2 separate regions of the Homo sapiens genome follow, and region 2 is linked to region 1. Evidence: fine-mapped expression QTL. Tissue or cell type: whole blood. Region 1 holds a variant in brackets; the other region holds the start of a gene. All regions are shown on one strand. Distances are between the middles of the regions.

Region 1 (2,752 bases):
CTGGTGTTTGTTTTTCATTTATATTTCACTGTACTACAGAATGTCAAATTCATCTGCCAATTCTCTCCATTCAGTTAAGGGAGAAAAAAAGCAAAATTGTTTGTTGGTCTAGTATAGATATCAAATGTTGAGATGATCAACTACATTTTTCTTTTTTATCTACTTGGTTTAGAATTGTATACATGTCGTCCTTCCACCTTAATAATAGATTAGGGTATTTTTTTTCTCTCCACCCTTTCACTTTTCAGCCACCTCCTTCTTTTACTTTGGGTTCAAGCTCAAGAGTTGGTTAAAGTGAAAGTTGCAGTACTCCACCAGTAAAGAAATTGGGGCTTGGCATCCAGTATCTAGACAAGTCACCTGAAAGTCTAGAACTGCACTGCCCAATACAGTATCCACTAGTTGCATGTAGCTATTTAAGTTAAAATTCATTACAATTAAATAAAATTTAAAATTCACTTCTTTGGCCAAGCACAGTGGCTCATGCCGTAATCCCAGCACTTTGTGAGGCCAAAGTGGGAGGACTGCTTGCGCTCAGGAGTTGGAGACCAGTCTGGGTAACATGTTGAGACCACGCCCCTACAAAAATTAAAAAAGAAAAAAAAAATTTACTTTCTCAGTCACACAAGGCACAAGCAAGTGCTCAATAGTCCCATGTGACTAGTGGCTACTGTTTTGGTGCACAGATATGGAATATGTCTCCACCTTGGAAATCACGATCGGTAGTTCTGGTCTGTAATTACGTGGCAGCAGCTACAGTTATAGCTTTCCAAATTTCCCACCTGCCTCCCAGTTTTGAAAAAACTCTTGGCCGGGCACAGTGGCTCACGCCTGTAATCCCAGCACTTTGGGAGGCTGAGGTGGGCAGATCACCTGAGGTCAGGAGTTTGAGACCAGCCTGGCTAACACGGTGAAACCCTATCTCTACTAAAAATACAAAATTAGCTGGACATGGTGGCACATGCCTGTAATCCCAGCTACTTGGGAGGCTGAGGCAGGAGAATCGCTTGAACCCAGGAGGCGGAGGTTGCAGTGAGCTAGGGTCGCACCATTGCACTCCAGCCTGGGCCATAAGAGTGAAACTGTCACACACAAAAAAAAGAGGAGAGGGGAGGGGACGGGAGGGGAGGGGAGGGGAGGGGAGGGGAGGGGAGGGGAGGGGAGAGGAGAGGAGAGGAGAGGAGAGGAGAGGAGAGGAGGGGAGAGGCAAAACCCTTAGTGGCGCAACTCTGGATGAGGAAACTGGGTAATACATGAGTGTTGAAGACAGAGCTTTTCAGAGGCCTCTCTGCTTTTCCCTGGAGACTGTTCTTTCTGGTCAGCCACCCAAGCTGTCCTGGCCTACACCTCTGAGCTGTTATAAAATCTTTTACTTATTTTTCCATGACCCACCCAAATGAGAATGTTGTAACATCTTCAGATAAAGCCCTCACCA[T/C]GAGACAGAAGTAGATCCACCCATCTAAGCTTCCTTTTATGTTTATTTGTGAAAGAGTTTAGAGGTTTGAGGCAAATGTCATAGAGAATGCAGTTTCATTCTTAAACTTCTAGTTACTGGATCTATGTGTTTCCTTCTTGGAAAGAAAATTAATGGTCAAGTAATAGATGTAGAGTATAGAGAGCAGGAAATTAGCCAATAGGCATTAAGTGACTACCTAAGGCCAGTGAGTGGTCCAGTTCAGAACGACTCCTACTTTTGTAGAGGACATGCTCTACTGAAAGACACAGCAAGGAGCTATATTGACACTTGCTAATCTTTGAATCAAGGAAAAGCAATTAGCAAATGAAATTTCTGGTGATATGTCTTTTTAAAACCCATGAGACTTCTCTTACAATTCTCCCCATGGTTTCTGTGATCTCACCTAGTGTACCATTATCGAATTTTTCATTAGTTTCATTCTCCCTCTAGATTTTTCCATTTGGCTTTTACTGAGGTGGGCTTTGTGGGTATTCTAGAATGACTCAGTACACCATTTAAACTTTAAATCACCACATTTTATTAGAACATCTATAAAGTATTTATTATTTCAATTAATAAAACTATGTCCTTTGGAATAATTGCCTTGGGTCATAAGTACAAAGTTAAAAACACTGAGCAAGTTATGTAAAACTATAAAAGCCTTTGGCAGATGATAAATGTGTGCTTTAGGCATTAAGCCATTTTAAATAATTATAAAGCAGCTTTCACAAAATAATCTCTTATGGAGAGGGCAGCTGAAGAATGATAGATGTTGGCCAAAACTCTCAAAGAAGCCACACTAGGGGCTTCCCCAGAATTGGAGTGAGGAGAAAGTTATGTAAACAAGAGTTGCCATGAAGAGGCCTCTGCTGTTTCTGTTCCCTCTTCCATTGGTGGAACTGGGAAACTGTAAGGAGACGTGCCCTGCCAGATCTCAGATGACTGCAGCGCTGCAGAGGGAGCAGGCAGTCACTAGGGTAACCAAATCTCAAACCATTGAAGTCTTTGGTAGACATGGTCAATACTTGAAATTCTCCTTAGAAGCAAAGAGGCAGCTTATTCGGGCCCCCTAAGACAACTTTAATCTTATACTTTCAGAGTTTCAGAGGTAAAGGATATAAATCTGTTTCATTTTAATTTAATTTTATGTCTTCTCCTGAATGCCAGGCAAATATTAGCATGGCGTGCTGTCATCATGAGCTTCTCTTAACTCACTAGGGGCTAATCATCATTCCCAGCTCCTCATCTTTGCCTCTTTGTAGTAGCAATAATGAGCTTGCAAGGGGATCTGGGAAG
Region 2 (2,752 bases), 20 kb after region 1:
TGAAAACGCTTCCAACAGGCAGATGTTGGGGAGAGGACATTGCAGGCGCAGAAGAGTGTTAGGAAGGGCTGTGAAATGGAAAGGTGTCGTCTTGGAGGAATCGGGCAGAGCCAGTTTACCCACAGGGAACTGGGCATGTAGGGGAGAGTGGTGCAGAATAAGGCTGGAAAATCCCGAGTTCTTACAGGCGCACTCGTCTACTCCGCGGACAGTCTCTTCCTTTCTATTGTCAGCGTCCTGGGGGTAGGGTTGTGTTATGCATTTAGTTGAACCTGAAGGGACTAGTCCAGGTCTCTCAGAAGGCAGTACCTAACTCACAGGCGACTGAAAGGAAACAAGGCCAGCGGAGCCCTGGCGGTGGCGAGGCTGTGCCAATTGCTAAATGGGGCAGCAGGACGTTTTTCTCTACTGAAGTGGCAATGCCGCGGAGCAGGAAGGCAGAGTAGCAGGTCTCCCGCTAGTGCGTCTCAACCGAAGAAGCGGCGTGATCTCTTCCTAAAACACACGAGGAAGGGGGCCTGGGCTGTGAGGCCGGCGTGGTTCTTGCACCCCTGGTCTCTATCCCTGCCTGGGCAACTGCTGGGAAGGAAGGGTCGGCAAGAGGCCTAAAGACCGGAGGCCAAGGGTGCGGAGCGCGGCCGGACTCAGAGGCGAGGACCCGGCGGAGAGGCCTGGGCGGAGCAGGGCGGGAGAGGCGCGCCCTGAGTAGGGCTCGGGGGAGGACGATGGCTGCCTCCTGCGGTCCTCCCCCTGCCTCGGGGGACGGCCCTTGGCAGACCGTCCCGGACTCCTAATTCATCCTGTTTTTAATAAAACCATTTCCAGAATCAAAAAGAGGGCGGTACCCAAAGGAGTCTGAAGAATGCCCAGCAGGGGCAGGGGAGCGGGGCGTGCCCGTATCGGGAGGCTGAAGGCTGACGGACCAGCGCAGCAGGGACAGATAACCGCGCCGGGGGGCGGAGGCCAGAGCCAGCCCCGCGCCCACAGGGTTGCGGCCCCAGACCCGCCGCGCGCACGCCCCCGCGCCTGGCGGCCACAGGGTCCGGAGCGGGGGCGGGGCCATCCGCGGCCGGGGGCGGGGCCGGGCGGGGGGCGCGCGGTTGGACCGGGCGGGAGGAGCAGGCTCTTCCATCTCCTGATTGGGTCTGGACCGCAAGGGGGCGGGGTCTTGAGGGGTTCTGCGGGCCGGCATTGGGAGCCGCAGAAGGAGGGCGTGGTAATATGAAGTCAGTTCCGGTTGGTGTAAAACCCCCGGGGCGGCGGCGAACTGGCTTTAGATGCTTCTGGGTCGCGGTGTGCTAAGCGAGGAGTCCGAGTGTGTGAGCTTGAGAGCCGCGCGCTAGAGCGACCCGGCGAGGGATGGCGGCCACCGGGACCGCGGCCGCCGCAGCCACGGGCAGGCTCCTGCTTCTGCTGCTGGTGGGGCTCACGGCGCCTGCCTTGGCGCTGGCCGGCTACATCGAGGTGGGGACCGGGCGAACGCCGGAGAGTCGTCTCCTTCGCCCGCCGGAGGAGCGCGGACTGCGGGCGGGCAGCGGGGTCCGCGGCAGGGCGGGCCGGCGGTGCGGCGCCGGGGGTCCGGCTCTGCGGCGGGTCTGGCGCGCCCTCCCCCGCCCGTCCCTGCTTGGCGCAGTGCTTAGCGCTGGAGGTCGGGCTGCCTCAGCCGCCGCAGAGGCCAAATGAAAGGCGTCGGGGCTGCTGGGGGCGGCCGTCCGCCTCGGCCGACCCAGCCCCCAACCCGCCCGCGGCGCCGCCACCTCCTCCGGGGACCCAGTGCCCCCGGGCGCCCGCCCCGCCCTCCCCCGGGACAATGCCAGGGCGCTCCTCTCCCGCCGGAGTCCGCGGCTGGGCTTTCTCCAGGGGCGGCCCCGCGCGGACCCCGTACGCTCCCTCGCGCGGCACCGGGGCCTCGGCTCCGGGCCTCCCACCTGCGAGCGGCGGGCTTCGCCTTTGTTGCCAGGTGGACGCGGCCCCGGCCTTCGCGCGCGGCAGGGATGCTGCGAGCCCCGGGGGAGCTCCCGCGCCAGGCCGCCCGCTGCTCCCTCTGCCGCCTGGGGCCGGGTCGCGGACGCGCATTTTTTAAGTGGCGCTGTTTGCCTGCGTCCGTAGACCGAGGAAACCCGCTCTGGGTGCGTTGACCGCTTTCGTGAGGGTTTCAGTGAGTAGGGAAGGTGCCCGCGAAGGCGTGTAAACTGTTGGAAAAATCGTCCTCTTCGGGTGTCAGAATTCCATCAGTGGTTGTGCTTCGAGGTCGCACCCTGAGCATCCCCGCTGCGAGAAAGGCGAAGCGGCAGGGCCGGGGGTTGGGGAGGCCGCGGGAGGGGGCGGGGGCGGCGGGGTCCGCGGTGCGGGCCGGAGCGGGCAGCCTTGGAGGAGCCCTGCTGTGGCCGAGGGAGACGGCGAGCTTGATCTTTACTTCCCTTCTCGAAGTGGTGCTTGAACTGCTGGTCTGGAATGTGTAGTTCTGGTGTCGTTTATTTCTTCTCCCTCTTCGCTCTTTTAAAAATTACAACTGGTTTCTGCATACTTAGCTAATTTCAGAGAGACCTGAAGACTGGATTTGATTGGGCATTAATTGAGAGCTTTCTTTTAAAGACCTCAGGTTTAGAATATATTTACTTCTACAGAATGTTCAAGTATTTCCACGGGTAAAAATAAATCTAATAAAAAGCCTCTCTGATGGAACGGCTTAACACCTTTGTATTCATCCAGTTTAAAGCTTTGTGACTGTGAGGGTAAGAAAGGAGTTCAG

Evidence for each region. PIP is the estimated chance that this variant, and not a neighbour inherited with it, causes the effect.
Region 2: it holds the start of APLP2, and the variant in region 1 is fine-mapped to the expression of APLP2 in whole blood (TOPMed, PIP above 0.99).

The regions. Positions count from the first base shown.
Region 1 is chr11:130,048,142-130,050,893 of GRCh38, forward strand. No RefSeq gene overlaps it. Among named protein-coding and RNA genes, the nearest start is that of APLP2, 20 kb to the right of the region's middle. RefSeq lists a silencer at 1,279-1,479. The variant T/C (reference allele first, on the strand shown) is at 1,436.
Region 2 is chr11:130,068,619-130,071,370 of GRCh38, forward strand. It overlaps APLP2 (amyloid beta precursor like protein 2), which reads left to right and starts at 1,276. Exons shown (of 17, transcript NM_001142276.2): 1 at 1,276-1,464. The coding sequence starts at 1,360. It overlaps LOC107984432 (a long non-coding RNA gene), which reads right to left and starts at 1,031. Exons shown (of 2, transcript XR_001748444.2): 1 at 846-1,031; 2 at 1-495. RefSeq lists enhancers at 1-467, 468-968 and silencers at 885-1,114, 1,505-1,634, 1,705-2,164.